Linked DNA regions of Homo sapiens: region 2 is linked to region 1. The links come from fine-mapping of genetic effects on gene expression. A gene starts in region 1. The other region holds a variant in brackets. All regions are shown on one strand. Distances are from middle to middle.

Region 1 (2,920 bases):
TGAGGCTTAGTTAGGTCCTCTGCTTCAGGGTCATCCACAGGCTGCAATCCAAGTCTTGACAGGAGTTATAGTTATCTCAAGGCTTATGTGGGGGAAGGATCCACTTCCTAGCTCCCTCACATGGTGTTGCCTAGATTCAGTTCCTCTAAGGTTGTTGGACTGAAGGTCTCAGTTTCTTGCCAGCTGTTGGCTAGAGGCGGCTCTCAGTTTCTTCCCATGTGGACCTTTCCACAGGGCAGCCTACACCATGGTAGGTGGCTTCATCAGAGAGAACAAGTGAGAGGACAAGAGGGAGTGCCAGCAAGATGAAAGTTAGTCTTTCATAACCTAATCTTGAAAGTGACATCCATCACTTTTGCCTTATTGTATTGATAGAAGCCAATCCTTAGGTTAAGCTCACACATAAGGCGAGCAGCTTATACAGGAAGTGAGTGAGGAGGCAGGGTTATCTGGGAATCCATTTTAGAAGCACTCTACCACACAGCCCCTCTCCTCCAGGAACTCACAGTACAGCTGAGAAATTACCTGGAAAAGGCTGGAAATTGTATAAGTACCTGGAAAAGACTAAGGTGTGCTGGCCCCATGACCGTCAAGGTAGGTATATGTTACTCTATAGTTTAGTCACTGTGTCTCTATCAAATTGCGCGTAACACGTTTGAGATTGTCACTGGTTTTCAGTGTGTCTTTGAGATACATTTTATGCGGGTTGCTCTCCTCCCCGCCCACTCCAGGATAATTGCTTTAATAATAAAACATAAGCTTAAAAAGCTTAACTGCGCTGTTATGTAGTTGTCCTTATTAACGGCTCCGATTCTTTTTTTTTGCGTTACAGCTCATTGTAAAATATGGTGATTCAATTTCATTTTCCACTTTGCTGTGTTGAAAGCTCCAGCAAAACACTCCTCTTCATTAAACTAGGAGACACCTTTATCATGGTTTGAGTTATCTGCATGAATACAGGAACTCAAATTTCCCGACTCATCTACAGAGTTTTCATTATGCTATGGAATGAAAAAAAAAAAAAAAGACGCACTAGCATATTCTAATCTCTCTAAAAATTACTCAGTGATTTAATAAGTAGCACACAGACTTATTGTAATTAGTCATAGTAACGTAGTAAATCGTAATAAATACATAATTGTGATTAATGTATTTATTGGCTTACTTTGCACATACGGTAAATACACCACCCTTTTTTTTTTTTTAGCACAGGTAGGGGCTCCTGGCTGATCGTGGCCCTTTTGTGCAGTTCCACCCCGCACCGTAGGGGGCAGGAGCAGCCCTTCCTCGCTCGCGGTTTTCGACGCTGCTTTGGTCTCTGTCAGACCCAACCAAGTCAGTATAAAAGGGGGGAATAGCCATGGAGAAGGTAGGCCTGTGGCCGGGCTTGCTTTTTAAAGGGAATGCTCTCCTGGTGATTAGGAACCTTAAATCACATTATAAGTAGGTGAACGCCAATGCGTGGTGCACTGCGGGAAAACTCGCAGGGCCTGGCTCAAGGGAGGCCTGGCATTTTCTCCTCCCCGCGCTCAGGCGGAGAAAGGTGCGGTCCAACCCGCGGAGGCTCGACCCGGAAGCCGCCGTGGCCGCCGCACAAGCTGCGCTCGTCTCTCGGCTGGGGAGCTCCGTGTCGCACCGGGTTCTTGGGCTGGCCGTGTCCTTCTCCCTCGGTCGCCACTGGCCCATGAGTCCCCATGGCGACGGCAGGGGCCAGGCCCAGGGGCGGGCAGTCCGAGTGGGGCTGCGGCGCTCCGGGGGCATCCGCGGCGGCGTGGCGGTGTTCGCCGCCGTGGCCGCAGTGTTCACCTTCACCCTGCCCCCTTCGGTACCGGGGGGAGACTCCGGTAAAGTACTCGCAGGGTTGCCCCTTCTGTCCCTCTCCCCTGGTCCCAGAACGGGCAGGGTCTGCGTCTGGCCCCTGCTCTTGGCATTCGGTCTGGTCAGCTCTGGGCCTCCATCCACCCCCCTGTGCACAGCGCACTATTGTGTGTTCCAGAGCCCACTTCTGTTTCCATTCCTGTCGTTGTGGTTTCTTTAGTTCTCAGGTTTTCGAGATGGGGCGTATTGTTGGTTTCGCCTGGTGGGGCTTATCGACCTCTCCACTTCCCCAGATCTTTTATCCTGGTCCTGAGTATTTACTTTCAGTCTTTTTTAGTCCACAGATATTATTCACGGTGTCCTTATTATGTTTCAAACAAAAGAACAGTAGTGGCGAACAGATAATTGCTAGTGTTCCAGTGCGGTTAGACAATACACAAGTTAATGAATAAACAGCATATTCACTGGTGATAAGTTATGGAGACAGTAGGAGGGAAATATGATTGAGAGTGGGGGTAAGTAGTGGGTCCTTCCGAATGACTATTCAGGAAAGACCTCTGAAGAGGTGGTGTTTTAGTTGAAACCTGAATATTGAGAAGGAACTAGCCATGCAGAATATTTGCAGGAGAACTCTTAAAAAGGTGGAAGCCAGGTGCGGCTGTTTCTATGAAAAAGAAAAGCATGACTCATTGGCCCTTAAATCACACTAATTGTTTTGTATTTGATGCAAGAAACAAGATCCATGTTTTGTTTTTGGATTCAATAATGCCATATCATGGCCAGTAATTTTGTCAGAATAGTGCTGTAATTTCAGGTGGTGAACCTATGGACTGAAGAAGCAGTTTTTGCTGCATGACTAGTGATCCCCAAATTGAGCAGCTTAAACAGCAAACGTTTATCGTCTCCCGTTTTTGTAAATCAGGAGTCTGGGTGCCGTTTAAGCTAGATGCTCGTACTCAGAAAAAGGTTGCTGTCATGGTGTGCGATGGGGCTGCGGTCTTCTCAAGGCTCAATTTGGGGAGAAACGCAATCTAGTTCTTTGCTATGTGGGTCTCCATAAGTTAACTGACTTCTGTCAAGAAAAAGATGAAGGACACCTCTC
Region 2 (2,920 bases), 170 kb after region 1:
TTAGTAGAGACAGGGTTTCACCATGTTGGCCAAGCTGGTCTCCAACTCCTGACCTCAGGTCCGCCTGCCTCGGCCTCCCAAAGTGCTGGGATTACAGGTGTGAGCCACCACACCCGGCCAGGGCAAATTCTTTAACCTCTCTGAGTCTCAAGTGCCTCTTCAATAAAATGGTAATCACAATAGTTTATGTAACGTTTTTTATAATGCTACTTTAAATACCATTATAAAATTAAAAATAATAACTGCTTTATTGACCACCTACCGTATGCTAGACATTGTACACATTTTATTTAACTTTTACAACTCTTCCTTGAGTTTAGTATTATTCCCACACCCTCTATTTTATAGAAGAGAAAACTGAGGCTTCTAAGAGTCAGATGATGTGGCGAAGGACATTAAGCCAGCAACAGGTAGAATTTTGATTAGGACACAGAGATTTCTCATCCAAAGTCCATGATCTTAATTCCTACATTACCCTTCTAAGAAGATTAAATGAGGCAATTTAGGTAAATGTATAGTATTTGGCCTTCGGAAGTTGCTCAGAAAATGTTACTTTGCTTCCTTTTTGCCTCCACTTTTGTTCTTAGCCTACTGAGTTATAGCTTCCCTTTCTGTGCTCAGGTAATTCATACTGTACTTGTATTTGGCTTACTTTCATTCACATTCACTTAGCAATAAATATTTATTGAGTGTCTACTATGTGTCTTGCCCTATGCCAGACACTGGGTATTCAGTCATGAATACAAAAGACACAATCCCCCATCCTCAATGCACTTGTAGCAATGCCAACAGCGTCCTCCAGGAGTCTCTGAATGTGGAGGCTGAGCCACGTTGCACTTCTTTAAGATGGATTAATACCATAGCATTTGCAACTATGATATTATGTTACCTTGGACACCAGGCAATTAGCAAGTAATTAAATCTCCCTTGGTCTGAATACACCTGCAACCAAACTGTCTGCTAAAGTTCTGTTACACTCACTAATTAGCATGAGTTGAATGACAGGATAATCAGAAAGAAAACACCTCCTCTTAGAGACTAGGAGTAAATGACAAAAAAGTGAAATGTGATTTTAACACTTTTTTGCTTGGATTTATATTAATGTAGAGTGGATGGACCCATTGTTTATCAATATTAATGCCTCTGGCAATAAATATGTGCCTAGGAAGGATTGACATATGCTCATATTTATATTCATTCTTTCAATATCACAAAAAGTTTGAAAATAACTGTTGCTTAGTCACTATCTGAATGCTTCCAACAGTAACAAATAACTATCTCTCAGAGCTAATAGTGAAGGTACTGACACCTGATTAAGTACAGGTGTACTCATTCAAGAAGCCGCAGTATTATTTTTATGACCACCTACTACAAAG[A/G]TACTATAGAAAACAGAGGATTCTCATGCAATTTCTCCCCCGTCAAAAATATTACCCATATCAACAGGGACTGATGTCAGCCAGATTAGCTTATAAGTCAGGATAAATTAGCTTTTTGACTATAGAGTACTTTTTTTTGAATAAATGGAGAGAAGTATTCAATAGATCTTTACAAATTAAATTTCCCCCTTTTAAAATTCCTTGGCTCTTTGATTAATACATTGCTTTTAAGACTTCAGTGAGAAGTATCATATTATCCTTGTGTTATCCCCTATTTAGGAGCCTACGAATGTCTCTTAATTGGGGACAAAAGTCACCACCTGGGCTGGTGGCTGACTCATTGTGCATGCTTTGCTGGACCTGCCACTGTTGAGTCAGTGGTTCTCATCCCTCCACCCAGGGCCCAGACAAGCTCCAGCCTTTAAGAAACGTCATGTGCCTGTAATCTCAGCACTTTGGGAGGCCAAGGCGGGAGGATCACGAGGTCAGGAGATGGAGACCATCCTGGTTAACACGGTGAAACCTGTCTTTACTAAAAAATACAAAAAAAAAAAAAAATAGCCTGGCGTGGTGGCGGGCACCTGTAGTCCCAGCTACTAGGGAGGCTGAGGCAGGAGAATGGGGTGAACACAGGAGGCAGAGCTTGCAGTGAGCCAAGATCGTGCCACTGCACTCCAGCCTGGGTGACACGCCGAGATTCTGTCTCAAAAGAAAGAAAGAGAGAGAGAGAGAGAGAGAGAAAGAAAGAAAGAAAGAAAGAGAGAGAGGAAGAAAGGAAGGTAGGTCATGGATCGGGGCTGCAGCAGAAACAGTGAGTTAGAACAGACTCGGGACAAAGTAAAAAGTCCTGAGAGCCCACTCTGGGTTTTTTAATGTCTACTATTTGAGACATTTGCCAGCCTTTAAGCAAAAGCTCAATGGACAAACTTCAGTGTTCCCAGCTCTAAAGGAATTTAGCTTAATGCTAACGCAGAAAAAATTCCCCAGCCACTCATGTAACTTTATTAGACAAAGTGGAGCATGCCTGCTCTTAAAGAAGAAGAAAAAAGACGTTATTTTCTTTTTCAGAGATTGTGCTACCCTAGAAAGGGAATGCATTTGAAGTAGTAAATGTAGACATTTCAGGCAAATATGTACTTTGTCTTCAAATGAACAGCTTTCAAAATGATCTTGGTTAAGCTCCCTTTTATTTTTATCTTTTATTCCTCTACAATGCCAGCTGAGGTTACCCATCTCCCAACAGCTACCAAATGGACTAGTAATTGTAAGGCTCGGTGATTTAATTAGACTCATTCTAAACACTCACATTTTTATCAATTAGTTAATGGGCTAAAGAGAGTCTCTTTGTTGGAGCCAGGTCATTTGGAAGCTAGAGGCTTCTTGAGGGCAAGAAGCTGAAGAACAGCAGCGTTAATATCTGTAATTAACCTCACGAGTCCTGGGTTGTTCAATTAGGAATGACCTCCCTTCCTTTCCATATGCCTTTCATCAGATGGGATTTTAATGTGAAATAATCACTGAAGAAAAATGAACCAAAAAGAAAG

Evidence for each region. PIP is the estimated chance that this variant, and not a neighbour inherited with it, causes the effect.
Region 2: its variant is fine-mapped to the expression of TMEM260 in ileum (GTEx, PIP 0.96).

Annotation. Positions count from the first base shown.
Region 1 is chr14:56,578,231-56,581,150 of GRCh38, forward strand. It overlaps TMEM260 (transmembrane protein 260), which reads left to right and starts at 1,568. Exons shown (of 16, transcript NM_017799.4): 1 at 1,568-1,844. The coding sequence starts at 1,685. RefSeq lists a silencer at 1,636-1,855.
Region 2 is chr14:56,750,865-56,753,784 of GRCh38, forward strand. No RefSeq gene overlaps it. Among named protein-coding and RNA genes, the nearest start is that of OTX2, 58 kb to the right of the region's middle. The variant A/G (reference allele first, on the strand shown) is at 1,377.